3 linked regions of the Homo sapiens genome follow. The protein of the gene in region 1 interacts with the protein of each later gene in a pairwise test. Each region holds a gene or a part of one and is shown on either strand. Other genes may lie near its edges.

The links. The genes of interacting proteins can lie anywhere in the genome.
Region 2: the proteins of BACH2 (region 1) and ZNF792 interact in binary tests that used the Homo sapiens proteins (3 or more experiments, as listed by UniProt).
Region 3: the proteins of BACH2 (region 1) and ZBTB34 interact in binary tests that used the Homo sapiens proteins (3 or more experiments, as listed by UniProt).

What each region holds. Positions count from the first base shown.
Region 1 is NC_000006.12:90,286,817-90,293,936, reverse strand, and holds part of BACH2 (transcription regulator protein BACH2), read left to right. Parts: exon of another isoform or gene 1-1,454; intron 1,455-1,991; exon of another isoform or gene 1,992-2,687; intron 2,688-7,120. UniProt on the Homo sapiens protein: Transcriptional regulator that acts as a repressor or activator. Binds to Maf recognition elements (MARE). Plays an important role in coordinating transcription activation and repression by MAFK.
Region 2 is NC_000019.10:34,955,854-34,961,229, reverse strand, and holds the end of ZNF792 (zinc finger protein 792), read left to right. Parts: intron 1-235; coding exon 236-362; intron 363-872; coding exon 873-995; intron 996-1,658; coding exon 1,659-3,274; 3' UTR 3,275-4,876; downstream 4,877-5,376. UniProt on the Homo sapiens protein: May be involved in transcriptional regulation.
Region 3 is NC_000009.12:126,855,942-126,863,638, reverse strand, and holds the start of ZBTB34 (zinc finger and BTB domain-containing protein 34), read right to left. Parts: upstream 3,001-7,697; 5' UTR 2,900-3,000; intron 2,461-2,899; exon of another isoform or gene 2,403-2,460; intron 48-2,402; exon of another isoform or gene 1-47. UniProt on the Homo sapiens protein: May be a transcriptional repressor.

The DNA of each region.
Region 1 (7,120 bases):
CTTAGTATCTTCAGGCAATTCTTTTCCAGTAGCTCACCTCTGGCTGCTGTGTAAGGGGCTTAATTATTTGCAAACTGCCTTGAAATCCCTGGATGAAAGGCACTGAATAAGTGCACAGTATTGTTATTCAGATATGGAATTTAATGATCCATTATAGTTCATCAGGAAAATGCACTTTGCAGTGATGGTAGGAAATGTTTCCACCTGATAGAGGGTAATAATAACTGCTTAAAAGTAGATTCAGATTACAGATGAGACAATTAACTCTAGCCATGTGCTCTTCAATTTGTTGCAATTCATTTTGTGATCAAAGTGAGTCACAGAGGGCCAGATGGTCAGGTTCATGTTCAGATCTCTCCTAGGCCAGCCCTTCACTTCTGGGCCCACTGTCTGCACAGCCGACAGGACTTAGTTATTCATTAGCGCTTGTGAGCTGTTTCTCAGAATTCCTAATCGAGGCTCCTGTGATGCCAACAAAAGGGCTCAAGCCAATCTGTATTGTTGAGAGCAGTTTAATTTTACTTGGATTAACTTTCAGTGTCTCTGGTGTGGATCCAGTCTTAACAAAAAGGAAAGAGACCCTAGTGGCTCTCTATCTCTGCTGTGCCTGGCCCCTCTACTCTAGTTTTTGAACCTCAGATTTCAGGGGTGTGACATCTAGCTTATTGTAAATGCAGGCTTGATTGTTAATGAATGAGAGAATACTTAGATAAATAAATATCTTCCTGTGTGTCCAGGGGGTGAGAGCCAGTACTAGCTTCATGGGCATAAGACCTGTGCAGTTACATAGGCCCCCTTCCTCTTCCCTGCTCAGAAGGACCTCATATTTGGTATAAGGTTCTGCTGTTTTCTTCGGAAATTCTTAATAATTTTTGAACAAAGGGCCCCTCGTTTTCATTTTTCACTGAGCCCTGCAAATTATGTACTTACCTGGTTCTGGTGAGGAGCAGGGCATAGTGTGGAGTGGCAGGCCGCCCCTACTCAACTCATTGTAGACTCTTGCTAGGGAACAGTTGGTAGGACTACTGGCTTTGTGTTGCCACATCATTTGATTTTTCCAGGGGAAGCTGAATATTGGATATTTATGTGGAATTTCCTGATTTTTAAATATTGGCTCAAATCTTTAAAAAATTTTTGGATGAAAGCATATGTAAGAGCTAGTGTCGGCCTGGGGGCTGCTTGTCTCCCACTACTGAACAGACTGAAACATCTTTTTTTGTTTAATATCTTTGTGTGTCTCTGTTTTCTAAAGGCCTGGCATATAGTGGATGATTTGTGAGTATGCACCCAATGAATGGTTACAACTACCTGGAAAATAGAAAGATGCCAAAAAAACAAAACTTCAAATCAACATTGAGTCCCACTCAGGGATTGATCAGCTTCCTTTTTAACAGAGAATTCGACATGAAAGGCCGAATAATTTAATACCATGAGTACAGTGTGATTCCTTGCAGGTGAATAATCCATTACTTTTGAACCACCTGCCCTCTATTTAGTTGTTACTGACCAGATGGGGTAACTTGGCTGGGTAATGCCTGAGGACCTCCATGGGAGTTTGACATTTGAGAACACTCACCAAAATAATAGTTTTGATTTACTGAATCCGCACCATGTGCCAGACCCAGTGCTGACTACCTTGCCTGAATGTACTTCATTGATTCCTCAAAGCAACCCTTTGAAGTAGGTGTCGTGCCTGCCCATTCTGCAGAGTTGGAAGAACTAATCTCATGTTGGAATGAACTTAATCTGAATATAGTGCATGTTTTCTTGAATGTCTGAAGGTTATTTCCCCATTCCATTACACAGTCCAGTCCTGAATCAATGACTGGGCATGGTGTAGGACTGTGACATACAGAGAACATGGTCCCTGCCCTCACATAGAACAGAGAACAATATAAAATGTAACATATTTGTCAAAATCTGCAATTCAGATAGCAGACGCTGTAAATCTGCCTCCCTGTTTTTCTCCTTTCCCTGTCTGGATGTTGAAGAAGTTTCAGCGACATATGACCCTGTCAGAGGTACTCACAGTTCAGAAGTCAATGCTGGTTGCAAAAATTGGAATTTCTTTGGAAAAGAAGACAAGCTTTTGGCAGAGCTGGGGCCACATATGGGAACGCAGCACCAAGGCCTTGGGAATGACGGAAAATCGCTTCTGTATTGTTAATAGCAATATATGACCTCTGCTGTCCTCCTATCTTTAAATTTTATGTAAATATTTACAAACTGTTCATGTCCAAACTGAAACCTGCTATGAACTAAACATTTTGTAAACTCAGTAAGATTGCCCAAAATACAACTCAACTTTCACCTTTTTTTTTTTGTTTGTGATGACATTTAATTTAAAAAAAAAAGACAGTAGTTGCTTTTTTTTTTCTTTTTTTTTGTCAGTTCAGGGTCTTTTAATTTTTTCCCTTTACTTTTTTTTTTGTTAATTTCAAATGTCAGTCTATCTAAAACTGAAACTTAATTTTACTATCAGCATGCTACTCAGCTTCCGTAAGGCTGGAAATGTCCTGCGAATCTTACCACTATGTCTTTTCCAAGGGCCATTTCATTTCTAAAGAATGTATAAATTGAACCTCATCCTGCTAGTGACACTACTTCAAAATTCAGGCAGGAATTTTGCCATTTGTTTTTCCTTGAGCTATTTTTTTTCCAAAATAATAAATCTTCCCAATCCAAAAGCATTTCACATCATCCTTCATTCTAGTCATTGGAACTACAGCCAAAATGCCTCTCAGTCTTCCCCAGTGACTTCATAATCACCGTTTCTTCAGCATATTCCCTGGTTGACTTCTCCTTTGTTCCTTAGCCTCATAATGAATTGCCCTTTGGTTCTGAGATGTGTCATTTTCCTCCCTGACCTTTTTGTTCTTTTCCTGAAGGCTGTAGGACATGCTGCTGCTGATGTGATGAGAGCCGGCGCTTGGTTGCTAGGTCCCTCCTGTCCTTGTGTCAGCTTTCATTGGCTCCTTTCCTAAGCATTTAAATCCTCCACTTTCCAGTCCTCCCATTCATCTCATTATTCTCTTCATGTGTGCCTGAGCCTGTAGCTGGCATGTAGACAAAGTCCCAGTTAGTTAGAAGAAAGCTTTTCGAGTTTCCAAGTCTTCCATCACTCTAGTCTTGGGCCATCTTCTATTCTCCCTCCCCTGTCACTTTCTGCAGATACTTCAGGAATTTCCTCAAGACTTTCCAGGAGTCTAACCCAAAGACAGCTTAGACCTTCACTTCGGATTTTAAAGTTGGGAGATCCCAATGTGATGATTTCCATTCCACAAGTAGGAAACAAAGTGAATGTACATGCTCAGCATCTTTCCTTAGTATTTCAGTATCCATAGATTTTTGGCAATTTTTCTTTTTTTCCTATCCTGTATTCTTCTAAGCAACAGAAGCTCGTGGATAGTGCAAAATGGGCCAAGTGTCCAGAAATACTGTTGCTTAGAGGCAGATGCCTCATTCATTCATTAAACAAATATATACTGAGTATCTCTTACATGGCAGGCATAGTGTTAAGTGACCACAGTGCTAATGGGGAGCAAACCCAGTCCTGGCCCCTGGTCTCATGAAGCACGTCATCTGGTAGGAAGAATGGCACTGATCAGTTAGTAACAGATAACCCACTGCTCGTGAAGGAAAGTATTTCATACACCAGAGTGTCTAATGGGCAGATTTAACCTGGTCGGGAGGTTGGGGAAGCCCTCCCTGAGGAATTGTGGAGTGACCTTCCATCAGGGACAGTCTGAAACTTGAGATTCACTTTTTCTCCAGCTTCCTAATCCTATTAATTCACTACTATCTTTGGCCCTTTGGAGTATTGCCTAAGCCATGCTGGAACCTCTGGGGCCATTTTGGCAAATAATAGTTCCTGTATACAGAGTCCAGAATTGATTTATTTACCTGGGTCTTTAGAACCTGATAAAAACAGAAGTTAACTGCCAAGAGTACTGTTCATTTCCATACTTGGAAAAAATACAAGTTAACATTCTTATTTTGAACATATTTAGGTTGGTTTTGACAATATTTGAATGATCAGAAGCTACAAAGATATTCTCTCCCAGTCAGCTGATGTGTGTAGGGCCTTTGGTGAAAAAGTGAGTCTAAATAGTCTGTCTGAAGTCCCTGGCTACTCCAGAGCAGAGGGTCTCCATCCTCTGTGGCCCGAAGATTATTCCAAGCTTGTCCAACCCATGGCCAGCAGGCCTCTTGCGTGTTGAATGCGGACCAACACAAAGGTTTTTTGTTTTTGTTTTTGTTTGTTTGTTTTTTGTTTTTTGCTATTTTTCTTGTTTCAGCTCATCATGTATCATTAGTGTTGAGTGTATTTTATGTGTGGCCCAAGACAGTTCTCCTTCTTCCAGTGTGTCCCAGGGAAGCCAAAAGATTGGACACGTCTTATTTAGACCATTCTTAGATGCAAAATTAAGGAATTTTGACAGCATCTATTTAAAATAAATTGATTATACTTCATGCTAACACCCCTCTATTTTCTTTTTCTTTGATGATAGTTAACTTGTATTGAGAGCTTCCTCTGTGTGCTGCTCATATTAACTCACATAATCCTCAGAACAACCCAGGGCTAGGTGTGATCACTAGAAGCCGCAGCATAGGTGTCGCTCAGCTAATGAATGGTAGAACTGGAGTTGGACACTAGCTGTCTGATGCTTGGGCCTGTTCTCTTACCATGTTATGGCTCTCCCTTTTCCTTTTCTTCTTCATTTGAAGTTGGAACTCTCTTTAGCAGTTCCCAGAAGTAGAAATAAAGGTCATCTCACTCTAAAATATTGGATGTTTTGTTGACATCTATCTTAAAGTTAAAAAATAATTTCTCAGTAAATCTGAGTGAGTATATCTCCTGTCTTTCACATGGCCTGCTTTCTAATAATTGCATTCCTTAGGTTTTAGTGTCCATTTAGGGATCGGAAAGTAAAAGTGATGCATATAAAGGCAAAAGAAGTACTAGGCATATAACTGAAATACCATGGCTCTGTCTCCAGGGTTTACTTGTAACTCACACTCCTACCCTCTTGTTAGGTGGAGGGAATTTGTTTTTTGCGTTTTGTTTTTTGTTTTTTGTTTTTTTGGTGGGTAGGAAAAGGTAAAAAACTATACCTGTAAGAGGTAGAGTATTCTACCAAGGAGGAAGATGTTCATTCAGAACTAATTCCATCAGAAATCCTAATTAGAAATATTAGCTACCAGTAACAGATAAAAGGAGGTAACCTTTGTTCTCATTCTGGTCAATTTCAGGAAGAGATTATCTTGCCAGATTAGCATGTTGCAACTCTCAGCTGGAGATTTGAATGGTTTTAAAGGACTCAGGCAGTTGGTATGGCAGTAACCCCCAATTACCTCAGGTTTGCAGGGTCACTGTTTAGAATGCTGACTCAGCTCTGCCTGGGCCAGACACCGAAGTTGTCATCTTTAGTCAAGAAGCATCATTCTCAGGAGCCACTTGAAACATTAAGCACACATTTGAAGCTCAATTTGGGAAATGATCAAGTGTATGAATGTATAGTACTGTGCTTATTTTTCAGCATTTAGTTCAAATTTTGGAGAAAGCTAAATGGGAGATGCTTAGTGTGTCAGTGTTGGAGGTTTTAAGTGATTTAAAAAATCAAGCAGATGAGTGCATAAAGATTTCTATGCAAACAATGTTGAGCTTAAATTAAAGCTGCTGATTTAGTGTGAGAATTACTTGCATTGATTTGTAGAATATCTATGTGGGTTCAAGATTCCATATTATGCAAATGAATAAGCCCTGAAGAGTCAAACTGAAAAAAAAATGAAATTAACTGTGAAAGATATTATTACCCATTCAGCAAGAGGAAAATGTAGACAGAGTTAACCCTTCCTTTTCATACATTTTCTTGGGAAGATAAGTGCCAGGGATGATGGTCCGTGTCCCAGATGTAAAGAAGCTAGGCACGGTTTGCAGCCAGTTCCCCCATCCTCCTTCTGTGCTCACTTTTTTGTTTCATGCTCTCTTACCTTTTGGCCACCCAGTCCCCTCAACTAGTCCTTGTCCTTCCCTTCCAAAACCAATCTCAGAGAAAGATTTTATGAACACAGTTTTACTAATATATAAGTAACTGAGCATACTTAATGTGTTACTTTTCTGAAGCATCAGCATGTTAATAGGAGACAAAGCCAAAGAAGTAAAACCCTAAAGATAAAAACAATAGAATTTCGCACACTGGTAACCTGGTGATAGGAGACCATTTCTGAATGGAGAGAGGGCTCGTGATAAATAAACACAACCCTAGGCAGAGAATATAGGCAAATGGATTACAGTATTTAAATCAAAGTAGTATTAAAATACAAAGAGAAGATTATTTTTAATAATACATTTGTCAGTGAGCATTTCCCGCCTTTTGCCGTACATTGGAGTTGATCACATAAACCTCTATAGCAAGATGGTATGTTATTTAACATTTAAACAAAGCTTCCAGGGAAAGCCATTTGGTTTGTGGTTAGGGATTTTTGTTATTCAGTAGCAATGAACCTGAAATTCTATATTATCTTTGCATGTTGAATTTTAGAAGAAAAAAAAAGCAGCGGATCCAACTTCACTTACCTCCCCACCCCAGTTGCATTGATACAAATTGAATTGATAAATTTATTTCAAAATTGGTGTGTCCCAATTTGACATACCACAAGCATAGTGGTGTCAGCATGGTGGTGACATCTGGACATTAGGAGAGTTGGTTGATTAATTAAACTATACTTATTTTAGATAGAGTTGTTGGCAGGTAAATACCTGGCTGTAGAGTCAACGCCCTTCAGTCCCACCTCTCCCCCACCATACCCTTCTCCAGCAACCATGCTATGTTGAGTTGATGGCTCCATCTAGTGCCAGTCTGTGGAACTGTCTTGCAGGACTTCACTGTCACCTCCAGAGCTGGGTATGATGAAGAGTCCTCTTTCTCTGGGAACACACTGTCTAGCGGGGAACTGCCCTCTAGTTCCTACCTCTCCTTTGTTTTTGCAGTTTAGTTATACCTCCGTGTCTTTCTTTGTTCCAGACTTAATTTGTTTCCCTCTCTCTAGTACCCCCTCTTTGTACTTGTTTCTCCTCCTTTTTTGTTTTCCAAGTCTCAATTTTTTTTTTGGAGAA
Region 2 (5,376 bases), on another chromosome or scaffold:
GGCTGGCAGAAGAGCGAGCTGGGCCCTGGACTTCAGGCCCAGAGCTTAGAGGGTGCCTCTCTGCACCCTGCCTGTTGCTGCTGCGGGCTGACACAGTGGTCACATGAGGCGCCCACAGAACCAGGGCCTGCTACCTCCTGGAGCTGTGGAGCTGGGGAGGAGAGTGAGCAGGGGATGGATAGGGAGTCCCAAGGACAGAGACTGATCATGGAACGAACTGTCCCCATCATGGCAGGGCTGCGTGACCTTTGAGGACGTGACCATTTACTTCTCCCAGGAGGAGTGGGTGCTCCTCGATGAGGCTCAGAGACTCCTGTACTGCGATGTGATGCTGGAAAACTTTGCACTTATAGCCTCGCTGGGTAAGGCTGTCACCCCTACCCCGGTGTCCCGAGCTCCTCTCTGCCTGTCCCCTTTGCCCAAGAAACAGCTCTTTCCTTCCCACAGCCAGACCGCTGGCACTGCTTCCATCCCCACTTTCCTGGTATGTGTGTTGTGGCTTCTGGGGCTGAGCTATGTGCATTGTTCCCTCCTCTCCCTGAGCTGCCCCCACACCTGCTGCCTGAAGCCTTGCAGGGAAGCTCCAGGCATGAGGGGTCTTGCGGTTAGCTGTGTGACTACCTCTGACTCGGCCATTCCCTCCTGGGTGATTATCCAGATCTGACAGTTCTGTGGTTTAGATTCTGTGCCTTTCCTCTTGCTAATATTTCCTAAGCCTGACTGTGCCAGGAATTCCAATCACTGATGTGGTTACTGCTTGCCGTGACCACCCAATGTCCCTGTGTCATACGGAGCTTCCTGTCTTGTAGTCTATCATGGGGTAGTTCAACTGGGCAGGTGCTGGCCACTGACCCACTCTGTCTTTCCCTTAGGACTTATATCTTTCAGGTCCCACATCGTTTCCCAGTTGGAGATGGGGAAAGAGCCCTGGGTGCCTGACAGTGTGGATATGACATCAGCCATGGCCAGAGGGGCTTATGGCAGGCCTGGCTCTGGTAAGCAGCGATGGGAGCTAGGGGAGGATGTGACTTCACCACTGTGTTTACATCATACCAGCATCTTCTCTCCTATTCATCATCATTTGATACCAATGCCAGTAGCCAGACCACGTCTCTGCTTTTCCTTCCCCGTGCTTGACACATTATCTACTTGTCATTATTATTCTGAGTTGGGCCCCTTGGCTGTGCCCCACTTTTCTGGCCTCCGTTTCTCTCTTTCAGCTTCCTCTGCGGCACTTTCCAACACTGGCCTACACTTAATGTGTTGTGAGATACGTGCTTTTCCTTGATGTGCTTGAACACCAGCTACTCAGTTGCAGGTTTTGCTGGGTCTAGATGCTCTCACTGCATAGCCCTCACAGGTTACCAGCAGCCCAGGCCCTGCCAAAAGGCCTTTAAAGAGAAGTGAGTGGGAGACCCTGCCTCTCTGCCCAATACTGTCCCCCATCCTTGTGTCCCTGGTCCTGATAAGGCCTCCTGTATTTTGTGACCTGGCCAGGCACAGTATGGCGGAGCAGATTATTCCTTACCCTGACCTGAGCCTTCTTGTGTTGCCAACAATCCCATGGGCTTATTCTTGGGTCAGCCAAGCATAGGTGATGGGGCTCTTTCCTTCTATTAAAGTTTATACGAACTTCACCAGCATTTCTCTGCTTTCAGATTTTTGCCATGGAACAGAGGGCAAGGACTTACCTTCTGAGCATAACGTTTCTGTAGAAGGAGTGGCACAGGACAGGAGTCCCGAGGCAACTCTGTGCCCCCAGAAGACCTGCCCCTGTGACATATGTGGCCTACGTTTGAAAGACATTTTGCATTTGGCTGAACACCAGACAACACATCCCAGGCAGAAACCATTTGTGTGTGAGGCATATGTGAAAGGCTCTGAGTTCAGTGCAAACCTTCCCCGGAAACAGGTGCAGCAGAACGTACACAACCCTATCAGAACGGAGGAGGGCCAGGCTTCCCCTGTAAAGACCTGCAGAGACCACACATCAGATCAGCTTTCCACCTGCAGGGAGGGTGGGAAGGACTTTGTGGCCACAGCAGGGTTTCTGCAGTGTGAGGTCACTCCCAGCGATGGGGAGCCGCACGAGGCCACCGAAGGTGTGGTGGATTTTCACATTGCACTAAGGCATAACAAGTGCTGTGAATCTGGGGATGCCTTCAATAACAAATCCACTCTTGTTCAGCACCAGAGAATCCACAGCAGAGAAAGGCCTTATGAATGCAGCAAATGTGGAATCTTCTTCACTTACGCCGCTGACCTCACTCAACACCAGAAAGTTCACAATAGAGGAAAACCGTATGAGTGCTGTGAATGTGGAAAATTCTTCAGCCAGCACTCCAGCCTTGTTAAACATCGCAGGGTTCACACCGGTGAAAGCCCTCACGTGTGTGGTGACTGTGGGAAATTCTTCAGCCGAAGCTCCAACCTCATTCAGCATAAGAGGGTTCACACTGGTGAAAAGCCATATGAGTGCAGCGACTGTGGGAAGTTCTTCAGCCAGCGTTCCAACCTCATTCATCATAAGAGGGTTCATACGGGCAGAAGTGCCCATGAGTGCAGTGAATGTGGGAAATCTTTCAACTGCAACTCCAGCCTAATTAAACATTGGAGAGTTCACACTGGAGAAAGACCTTACAAGTGTAACGAATGTGGGAAATTCTTCAGCCACATTGCCAGCCTCATTCAACATCAGATAGTTCACACTGGCGAGCGGCCTCACGGGTGTGGTGAGTGTGGGAAAGCCTTCAGCCGAAGCTCTGACCTCATGAAACATCAGCGAGTTCACACTGGTGAGCGGCCTTATGAATGCAATGAATGTGGGAAGTTATTTAGCCAGAGCTCCAGCCTCAATAGCCATCGGAGACTTCACACTGGTGAACGGCCTTACCAGTGCAGTGAATGTGGGAAATTCTTTAACCAAAGCTCCAGCCTCAATAACCACCGGAGACTTCACACCGGCGAGCGGCCTTATGAGTGCAGCGAATGTGGGAAAACCTTCAGGCAGAGGTCCAATCTGAGGCAGCACCTGAAAGTTCACAAACCAGACAGGCCTTACGAATGCAGCGAATGTGGGAAAGCCTTCAACCAAAGGCCTACCCTCATTCGGCATCAGAAGATTCACATCAGAGAAAGGAGCATGGAGAATGTGCTCCTTCCCTGTTCACAGCACACACCAGAGATAAGCTCTGAGAACAGACCTTATCAGGGCGCTGTCAACTACAAGTTGAAACTTGTTCATCCAAGTACCCACCCTGGGGAGGTTCCCTAGGAATGCTAGCTGTGTTGGAAGCTTTCTGGAGACAAGTTACATTCTCTTACTGTAGAGTTTATCAGCGTTTTTTCACTGCTGGGGTTGTGATAGAAGCCATGTCAGCACCACACACTGCAGCTCTCCAAAGAGTGTGTCCACCACTCCACTGTGCTCAGGGAAGGCAGACCTCTCCTCTCTCTTTCCAATCCCTAAAGGGAATTAGGAGTAGTCTGAAGCCTTGGGAAGATGTCATTCCCGCCCTGTATGGCTGGTTTAGCCATGGACATGACCAGCTTTTGGCTGTGAAGACCTGAGCAGGGTTTTGCCAACAGCTTGTTCTAGAGAAGGTTTCCCTTTTTCTGGGACATTGTTGGTCTCATGTTATGCCTGTGAAGGATTTGTCCAGCCTTCATGTTACTCTACACAACAACTTATCTCCTGTGTATTGCCCTGGTTCATGTGATGATAATGGCCTTATGATAAAGCCGCCTTTAGTCTTCCATGTTCTGATCACTGTGTGGGGTGGTTCAAGAGCAGAGTTAAGATCTACCAAACTGAAGGGGTCTCCAGATTATCTTGGAGGGGACAGGAGGATGGCAGAGAAACAACTGTCAATCCAGATTTGACCTCATTTGCATTGCCACCAAGGCCTCCTAGGAAAAATTGTAGGAATTTATGGGTATAATATTGTGGTCTGAATGGCGTGAATTTTTATCCCGAGGAGGGGGCAGTTGTGACAACCTCCAGTGCATGTGGGAACAGCATGAATTGGGTCCCTTATTCCCAGGGGGTGCCCCATATTCCCCAATACTGTAAAGCAGATGCTGTTTAGCACCTGCCAAGGAGCCATATGCCCTGAAGTTCAGCATTAGGCAGGTATCTCTTAACTGTAAGACATACCAGGCCCAGCTGGGACCATAATTTGTACAGAAACACTGGATGTGATTAATAGGGAGTAGGCGAGATTATAGCAAACCAGCAGAAATGGAACTCTGCTAAATGTGCATCCGTGAATGCTCCCTTGAATGTGGCTGTGCAGGATTCAGGGTTTGCAGAAATTCTCAGGACCTCAGACCTCTGTCCTATGACTAATGTTACTGGCAGAGCAAATAATCTAAAGGTTTTGGTTTTGTGGATTACCATCTCCGTGCTGTGCATCTGAAGGCCAGTGCTGTGCTGGCAGGAAAATAGGGACTGAGAAAAAGCAGATCCTATACTATAGGGACTGTAGTATCTATGACGTAGCCAGCCATTCTTTGCTCCCAAGGCAAGAAGAAAGAGATGACAGAGTCAATATAGGGTTGCCAAATCGGATTTTCTAAAATGAGTAGGAAGTTGGATTTTTATGTGCAACAGTTTCTTTTAATGCTTTGTTGATATGTGATTGTCATGCAATAATTATTCATATTTGGTAAGTTTTGTACATATATTATGTACACTCAGGGAACCAATACCATAATCATGATAATGAACGTATCCATCACCTGCAAAGCTACCTCATGCCCCTTTACATTCCCTCCTTGCCTTCCCTAGGAAACCGTTGATTTACATTTTTTACTTTAGATTTGTTTGCCTTTTCTAGAATTAACACAATTGGAATCATAAAGTATTTATACTCTCTTTTGGTCTGGTTTCTTTCATGCAGCATAATTATCTTGAGAATCATCCATGCTGTGTGTATATATAGTTCATTCCTTTTACTACTGAGTAGTGCTATACTGGGTGAGTGCACCATAGTTTTTTATGGTTTATTTAAAAATGTTAAAAAAATCTGATGAAATATACTTAACATGAAATTTACTATCCTAACCATTTTTAGTGTATACTTCAATGGTATTAAGTAGATTCGTATTGTTATGTAACCATCACCACCATTCGTCTCCAGAACTCTTCAATCTTGCAAAACTGAAATTCTGTACCTGTCAAGCAATAACTTCCCATTTTCCCTTCCCCAGCCCCTCAAAACCACCATTCTACTTCCTGTCTGTATGAATTTGACCACTCTAGGTACCTCATATAAGTAGAATAATAAGTATTTGTCTTTTTGTAGCTAGCTTATTTCACACTTAGCATAATATTCTCAAGGTTCATCAATGTTGGAGCATATGTCAGAATTTCCT
Region 3 (7,697 bases), on another chromosome or scaffold:
GCGTTCAGTTGATGACCTTCACTAAGCTAAATTCAGCAGTTTGTCAGCTACAAAACATTAAATAGACACAATTAAGAAGTTTGAAAAACATTAAGCAGAATTTAAACTAAAGTAACATGAACATTAACGGGAATAAAACGTAACTAGATTCATGGTACTGACATTTTAGACAAGTGCTTCAAATGGAAGGCAAAAGTGGGGGGACACAGCGGTGCAGAAATCCAAAACTCAGTAGGTACACAGTTCAGCAGCTTATCATTTCTCCACCTTGATAAATGTACACCCAATAATGACAATAACAATAATGAAAATGTACTAAGCAGTTACTAGGTGCTGCACATTTTTCTACTTCGTTCCATTTTCGTTTACAGTTCATTGGATTTTATTATCCTCCACACTGCAAATAAGAAACGGAGGCTCAGAGGCATTAGATAAATTGCTCAACTTCACAGAGCTGGTAAGCAGACTTGCTAGGATTCAAACCCAGGTCTCTGATTCCAAAGCTGCTGTTCTTTCCCCACAGCCTCCGAATGAAGAATCACATGACTTTTACCTTTTCCCATGATCAGAGGGAAACGTTTCAAAGTTTCAAAGATTCGTTTTGTGCTTTCTGCACCCTAAGAGAGCAAGCTGAAAACATCCACCTTGAATGGTAGCATTACATATCACTTATCTATGACACAGAAAGCTGATAAAAACAGATTCTCCTTAAAAAAAAAAAAAGGCAAATTACAAAACAAAACAAAAAGTTGTTTACCAACAAAAATCAGGAAGTATTTGAGTACCTATTATAGAAGTCCAGCCCCAGTATTAGATACTATAAGGTCTCCGAGAGGAGTATTAAGACACAATGCCCTTAAAAAAACTCCCACTCCAGTTGGGACAAGAACAAGTTCAACAGCCAAGGAACAAGTGCTGAATCCGAGTGCCACAAAGCCATGGGGGCAGGGAAGTCAGGGAACACCCTCTGGAGGAAGTATATCTGCAGCAGGGGCTTGAAGGAAGTGAAATGGAGAATTTGCACAGAAAAGAAAAAGGAGGCCAGTGCTTCAGAAGGGGGAACAACAGAAGCAAAACCCAAGAAGCCGTAACTAACTCAGTTCTGCAGGGGACAGACTTGGAGAAGCAGAGAATAAGGTTCAGGTAGGTGGGGTGGGGCCAAACCACGGAGAGTCTTGAAAAGACAGGGTGGGCGGTGGCTGGACATACCGTGGCAGGCAAGAGGCCACTACTCAGCTTTGAACAGTGGTATAACTGCCGTGGCCTCTTAACTGATCTCCTGGCCTCTAGCTTCTTCACCAATGCCTTCAGTAGTTTCAACTTTGACCTAGTGTTTGAGTTGAGGAACTAGCCGCGGCCCACCTCTCCTCCTACTTCCCTCCTATATGAACCCTTCTCTGCCAGGAGACTGGTCTATTCACTAACTCCATAGGATCACTGGGCCTGATTCCTCTTTTCCTATCTGAATGCTACTCATCCTTTAACACCCGGCTCAAATCCCGCCCCTCACTAAACCCTCCCTAACCACTCGGCCTACAGTGACCTCCATCTCTCCTTCTTAATTCTACAGCACACAGCCTTGTCTCATCAAAATTACCTTTTCATAAGTAATGTCTCAGCACCCTGTGTAAAGCTGCCTGGAGACTGTAAGTGTGCCTTCTACTACTTTCCCACCACATGGAACAGCATCTTGCCATTTAATAAGCAAGCAAGCACTCAACTATTTTTTGACTTCCTATAGTAAGTTTGGCTTTAGCATAAAGGAAGGATGGGGGAGGGGGGAACCTCTGGAGTCAGCGACCAGCTTAGAAGCTGTTGCAATAATCCAGATGTGAAGCAAAGAGGGCCTGGACTAGGGAACAAAGAGAAAATGGGCAAATATAAACAACAAAAAATTCTGCATGCAAAAACTCGGCGGAATGTGATTAACTACTACTAGGGACAAAAGCAAGGGATGAATGAGGATTAAGGTGAGGTTTAGAAAACGCTTCTTGAAATCATTTTAAAGCCTGTCTGAAACAAAATGCAGTAAGTGGCTTAAAAAGTCCACACTGACAAAGTCTTCAGCGAAACTGCCCAGTATCTTGAATCAGGGACAGCCCTTCCAATTTGAGACATACACGGAATGGCAGAGCCAGAAGGGTTCTTAGAGAGTTAAATGAAACCCTCAATGATCACATGGGGAAACTGAGTCCTAGCATGGAAGGGGCTTGCGGAAGGCCTCAAGACAGAGACTCCCAGACGAGTGCCGCCCTGAAAGCACAGCCACTTGGCCTAGAAGGGCACTGTTTACAACCCCGGTCAGCCCCAGCCCAGCCCTCCGCAATGGCAGGACCAACTGAGCGCGAGTGGCCACGGAGACGTCTGGGGCCAAGCGCAACCCGTCGCCGCCGCCTGTTTACCTGGAGGAAGGCGGTGGCGTGAGGCAGCGGCTCCGTGGCAGCCACCCGAAGGGCCGACCCCTGGCCCGGCCGGCTCTCCAGGGAACTCAACCATCTGCCCTCCCTCCCCGTACAAAAGGGAGCGCCCCCAGGGCTAGGGGCCCGGAAGCTGGGGATCCCGAGACGCCCCGGGCGGAGGCTGGGAGCCCAGGGCAGCTGCCCGAGCGCGACCCTCAGCCGGGCCAGCGGCGCCGGGACTCCAGGACCGAGCACAGCTGGCCCCTCGGGGACGCGCGCCTGACCCCAGCAGGTGCCCGGGGCCTCCGGACCCCGCCCGGCCTCGGCTCCCGCCCGCGCCGGCCGCCTGCCCGCGGGACTGACCAGGCGCGGAGGCTCCCGCCCCGCCGCGCCCAGAGGGAGCCGGACAGCGGCCCGGGGACTGCCCCCCGCCCCGCCTGCCCCGCCTGCCCCGCCCGCGCCTAGCCCGCTGCTCGCCGCCCCCGGCCAGCGTGCCTCACCTGTCCAGAGCGCCGCGCTCACATCGCCCGCCCGCGGCGCCCCCTCCGCCGCCGCCGGCGCCAGGCCAGTCCCCGCCGCTCCGGCTGCCGCCCCAGCCCGCGCCCCCCGCCCCCGGAAGCGCTTCCCGGCCCCGCCCCCTGGACGCCCGCGCTTCCGGGCAGGCGCCAACCCGGGTGGTGGCGTTGCGCGGCGGACCTCTAGCCAGGGCCCGGGGTCCTGAGTCCCGCCCGGTTGTCGTCCCAGAGCCTCGCCGCGGGCTAGCGGCAGCCTTGGTCTGGACCCCGGAGTCCCGACTCCGGGAAGCGGCGTCGGCTCTGCCTTCAGCCCGCGCTCTCCTCGGCGCCCCCTGCTGGCGGGAGAAGGGCGGTGCAGTGGGGCGCGTTTCAGGGGCTCCCGGAATCGAACGGGTGGGAGAGAGCCCAGGACCCTCGACCCCCCCAGCACTGGGGGGCCTGCCCCCAGCCCAGCCCTCCCTTCCAAGACCCTCCCTCCTGCATCTCTTCAGGCGCATGCCACGCACCCGAGCTGCTCCTGGCAGGGCAGCTGAAGGCAGCAAGGTGCAGTGGTTAGCAGCAGGGCTCTGGGGACCTGTCATAGGGGGTCTCTTGACTTACCACCTTGGGCAGGTTTTCTCTCTCTCAAAACGGAGGTGGCTCCCGCCTGTAATCCCAGCACTTTGGGAGGGCGAGGCGGGAGGATCACTTGATCCTAGGAGTTTGAGACCAGCCTGGGCAACATAGGGAGGCCCCATTTAAATTTTTAAAACTTAGCCAGGCTTGGTGGCACATGCCTGTAGTTCCAGCTATTGGGGAGGCTGAGGTGGGAGGGTCGCTTGAGTCCGGGAGGTCGAGGCTGCGATGAGCCATGATCGTGTCACTGTACTTCAGCAGTGGTGAAAGAGCAAGACCCTGTCTCAAAAACAAAACGGAGGTGAAAATTCCCAACTCACTGTTATAAAACCCATGTCACAGAGCATGCCTCAAAAAATGTGCATTTCCAGACCCTTGGGGACACCCCAGTCTTCAAACCGTTGGGTGGGAGTGGGAGCCTCACCCAGCGTTTTCCTCCCAGCATTAGACCAATGTAACACTCTTTGAAGAGCTTCCCTTTGCATTTTGGTGGAGTCAGTAGTTGTGGCAGAGGTTTATTTTCCTTTTTCTGGCTTTGTAATAAAAATAAACTAGGAGGCAAAGATACCAGCTCCTCTTCAGGATAGAAAGCTGCTGAGACTTCCTGATGTTACTTCATCCTTTGCAAGCAGGAACTGTCTCTCCAGGATCTGTCCAGTGGTCATCCTCCAATAGCAACAGCTACCCTTTGTCAAACACTCCATGCAGGGCACTGTGTAGACACTTGACAGCCATGACCTCATTTAACACAACCTAAGGAGGTGGCGATCTATTCCCATTTTAATCCAAGAGGGAACTGAGGCTCAGAGAGGTTGAGTGACTTATCCAAAGTCACACAGCTAGTAAATGGCAGACTTGGGATGAACTCCCTTGTCTCTCTGACTTCTTATAGCAACAGAACATCCAAGCATAGGATTTTAGGCAACCTGCCTATAACTGCAGGCACCTGGGCAGACAGGTAGTCTCGCTCTTGAATTGCTATTGCACTTGAGTTGTTTTCTTGAGATCTGTCCCCAAGGGTGAGATACGTGTGCACCCAGGGCACAGGAATACATCATCTTGTCAGGTTTCCTCCGGACTGCTGAGCTGATTCTTATGCCCAGAGGTTTTCCTACAGATCAGCCTTGGGCCTCATCATTTTAACTGATTTTTGCTAAATTCGTTGATAAGAGTTAGGGTCTTCTTGGCTGTGACACAATATTTGCATATCATTAAGTACTATAAAGACTAAAATAGTTCCTGAGTTTTTGACCCTCCTCTGCCAAGTGTCTCAAAGTTGTTGGCCCTCTGTCTGTCCATTGGATGCTGGGTATTTCCCTCATAGTTTATATTTACTCTCCCACCTAACTGGGTCACCAAACTCATCATTTATATATTTTTCCAGCCCCTTGCTTTTTTCGTTCTTGTTGTTTAGCTGATTGTCATGGTCTCTACTAATTTTAGTTAAAAAACTGTCACTCCTCCACAGTTGAGGTGCATATGTGTTTCTGTTTTCCCATAATCTTTGTGGCAGTTTTAAATGATTTAACTCGTTAGCTCCCTTGAAATCAAGAAGTCTAGGGAGTGATGTACAAGTCTCATTTTAATTTATTCCACACTTACCCATTTTCCTCAGCAGCATTTATGAAATGATCCAATTCACATTTTGTTGAAGTTTGGGGTTGCCCTTCAATCCACAGTTAAGAAGGAGTTTTCTGGCCAGGTGGGGTGGCTCATGCCTGTAATCCCAAACACTTTGGGAGGTTGAGACAGGAGGATCACTTGAGTCCAGGAGTGTGAGACCAGCCTGGGCAATATAGTGAAACCTCATCTCTACAAAAAAGAAAAAAAAAAAAGCTGAGTGTGGTGCCACGTGGCTGTGGTCTCGGCTACTTGGGAGGCTGAGGTGGAGGATCGCGTGAGCCCTGGAGGTCAAGGCTGCAGTGAGCCATGATCACCACACTGCACTCCCGCCTGGGCATCAGTGTAAGACCCTCTCTTAAAAAAAAAAAAAAAGGTGTGGGGCTTCCCATCGTGGGGGTCAGCCTATGTGAGGGTGATGGCTGATAGCTTACCAATACTTGTGTTCTGCCTTTTCTTCTTCCACAGCACATGGCTAAAACACATCTCCAGCCTCCTCGCCATGTCATGTGTTAATTGAGGTAGCCTGTGAAGTGCTTGGCATGTGTGAGTCTGCCGTAAAAGTTAATTCCCTTCCCATTCTTTCCTCTTCTCCCCCTCCTTGGACAGATACGGCCTGAATCTCCGCTTCTCATTGATTCCAGATTCCTGAGCACTTGGAGAGCCAAGATAGCCAGGTTATAACTGGTCCCAGCTTCTCCTTCTGGCCTCCACAAGGGACCCTTTCTGCCAGAAGTCCAGCTGCAGGACTTGGCTCTGGTCCACCTGGCAATCCTCAGAGTTTGGCAAAACCTGTTGACTGTTGGCACCTGTTAGTCTTTATACACACACATAACTCATGTGTCTCCCTTAAACAAAATATATGAATTATTTGCGGTTTCCTCATTCTTCCTCCTCTAATCAGGACCCACTAGTGTGTCCCTTCCACATGCCTCACTACCTGAACAGTACCGTCGAAGGGGGAGCCTGTCTCTCCAAACAGTCCCAAGATGTCCACTGACTTCCAGATCATTCCAGTAGGTCAGGGTTCCTTCTACCTGGCTGCCTCTGCAGAGGAGGGTGAACATTCCTCATGGGTCAGGGAGAGCACTTCCTTGGAGAACCCTCAGACACTCACCACCTTTACAATGGGGACCAGGTAGTTGGTTTACCCCTCGGAGCTTCTCTTCTTCACCTGTTAGATGATGGTGAGGCTGAGGGGTGTGATCTGAAGAGCTTCTTTTCCGTGATCAAGACCGGGCAGTAGAGAATCCTGTGGCTAAGCAATAAGGCAGATCCAGGTCTAAACCCCAGCTCAGCCACACAAGACCTCTGTGACCTGAGATGGGGCAAGACATTTGACCCTACTGAGCCTTGGCCTCCTTGTCTGTGTAGCAACGGGGATGGTACCTACCTCAGTGGGCAAATAAGATAATAATTTAATGTTTTCAGAATGGCATACTCAATAAATATTTTTGATCAGCAAGAAAGCAAGGGAAGGCCGGGTGCAGTGGCTCACGCCTGTAATCCCAGCACTTTGGGAGGCTGAGGTGGGAGGATTGCTTGAGCACAGGAGCTCAAGACCAGCCTGGGCAACATGGCAAGACCCCTTCTCTACAAAAATTAGTCAGGCATGGTGGTGTGCACCTACAGGCTTAGCTACTCTGGGATGCTGAGATGGGAGGTGGGAAGATCACTTGAGCCTGGGAGATTGAGGCTACAGTAAGCTCTGATGGCACCGCCGCATTCCAGCTTGGGCAACAGAGTAAGACCCTGTCTCAAAAAAAAAAAAAAAGAAAGGAAGAAAGGAAAGGAAAAAGGAAAGGAGGAAGGGAAGGAAGGAAAGGGAGGAAAGAAAGGGAGAAAGGATGGTCTCAAGAGCCGCCACCCATTTCCATGAGGCCACTCCTCACTTCCTGCAGAGATGACTTGCTCTCTACTCTCCGCCTGCCTCCCCTGTTCAGCTTCCATGCAGGTCCTGCCTCTCTCTGACCTGAGCCCTGCTGACACCCGCTGGGCCCAGGTGCTGCCTCTGGAGTTCTTCCCCTCTGTAATTTTCTTCTTGGTCTGCGCCCTCCTGGTTTCCTGCTGGTTCTCCAGCACTCTTAACTGACTCTCCTGGCACTCTGCACTTCTTTGTAGTAATCACAATGGCAATTAATTACCTGTATAATTATGTGTTTAATAGCTGTGTCTCCTACCACTAGCCTGTAAACTCCATGAGGATGAGAACTTGTCTGACTTCTTCCCTGCTATTTCTTCAGTGCTTGATACTTAATAAATATTTTTTGGATTAACAGAAAATGAGAGGCTACCTGTTTTTCTTCTAAGTCTATATTCCCTGAGGGCAAGGACTGCTTTATTGTTCCATTTTCCCTGTACCTTACAGAGAACCTGGTGCTGAATGGGCAACAACGTTTGCTGAATGAATGAATGAAGAGACTGAAGCCCCATTTCTCTTCCCCTTTTACCTGTATCATGCCTTAAGACTGGTTCTCCCCTCACTGTAAGTGCTTTCTTGGTCCTAACCAGCCCCTACCTGGAAGCTTCCCTTGACCCATAAGGATAA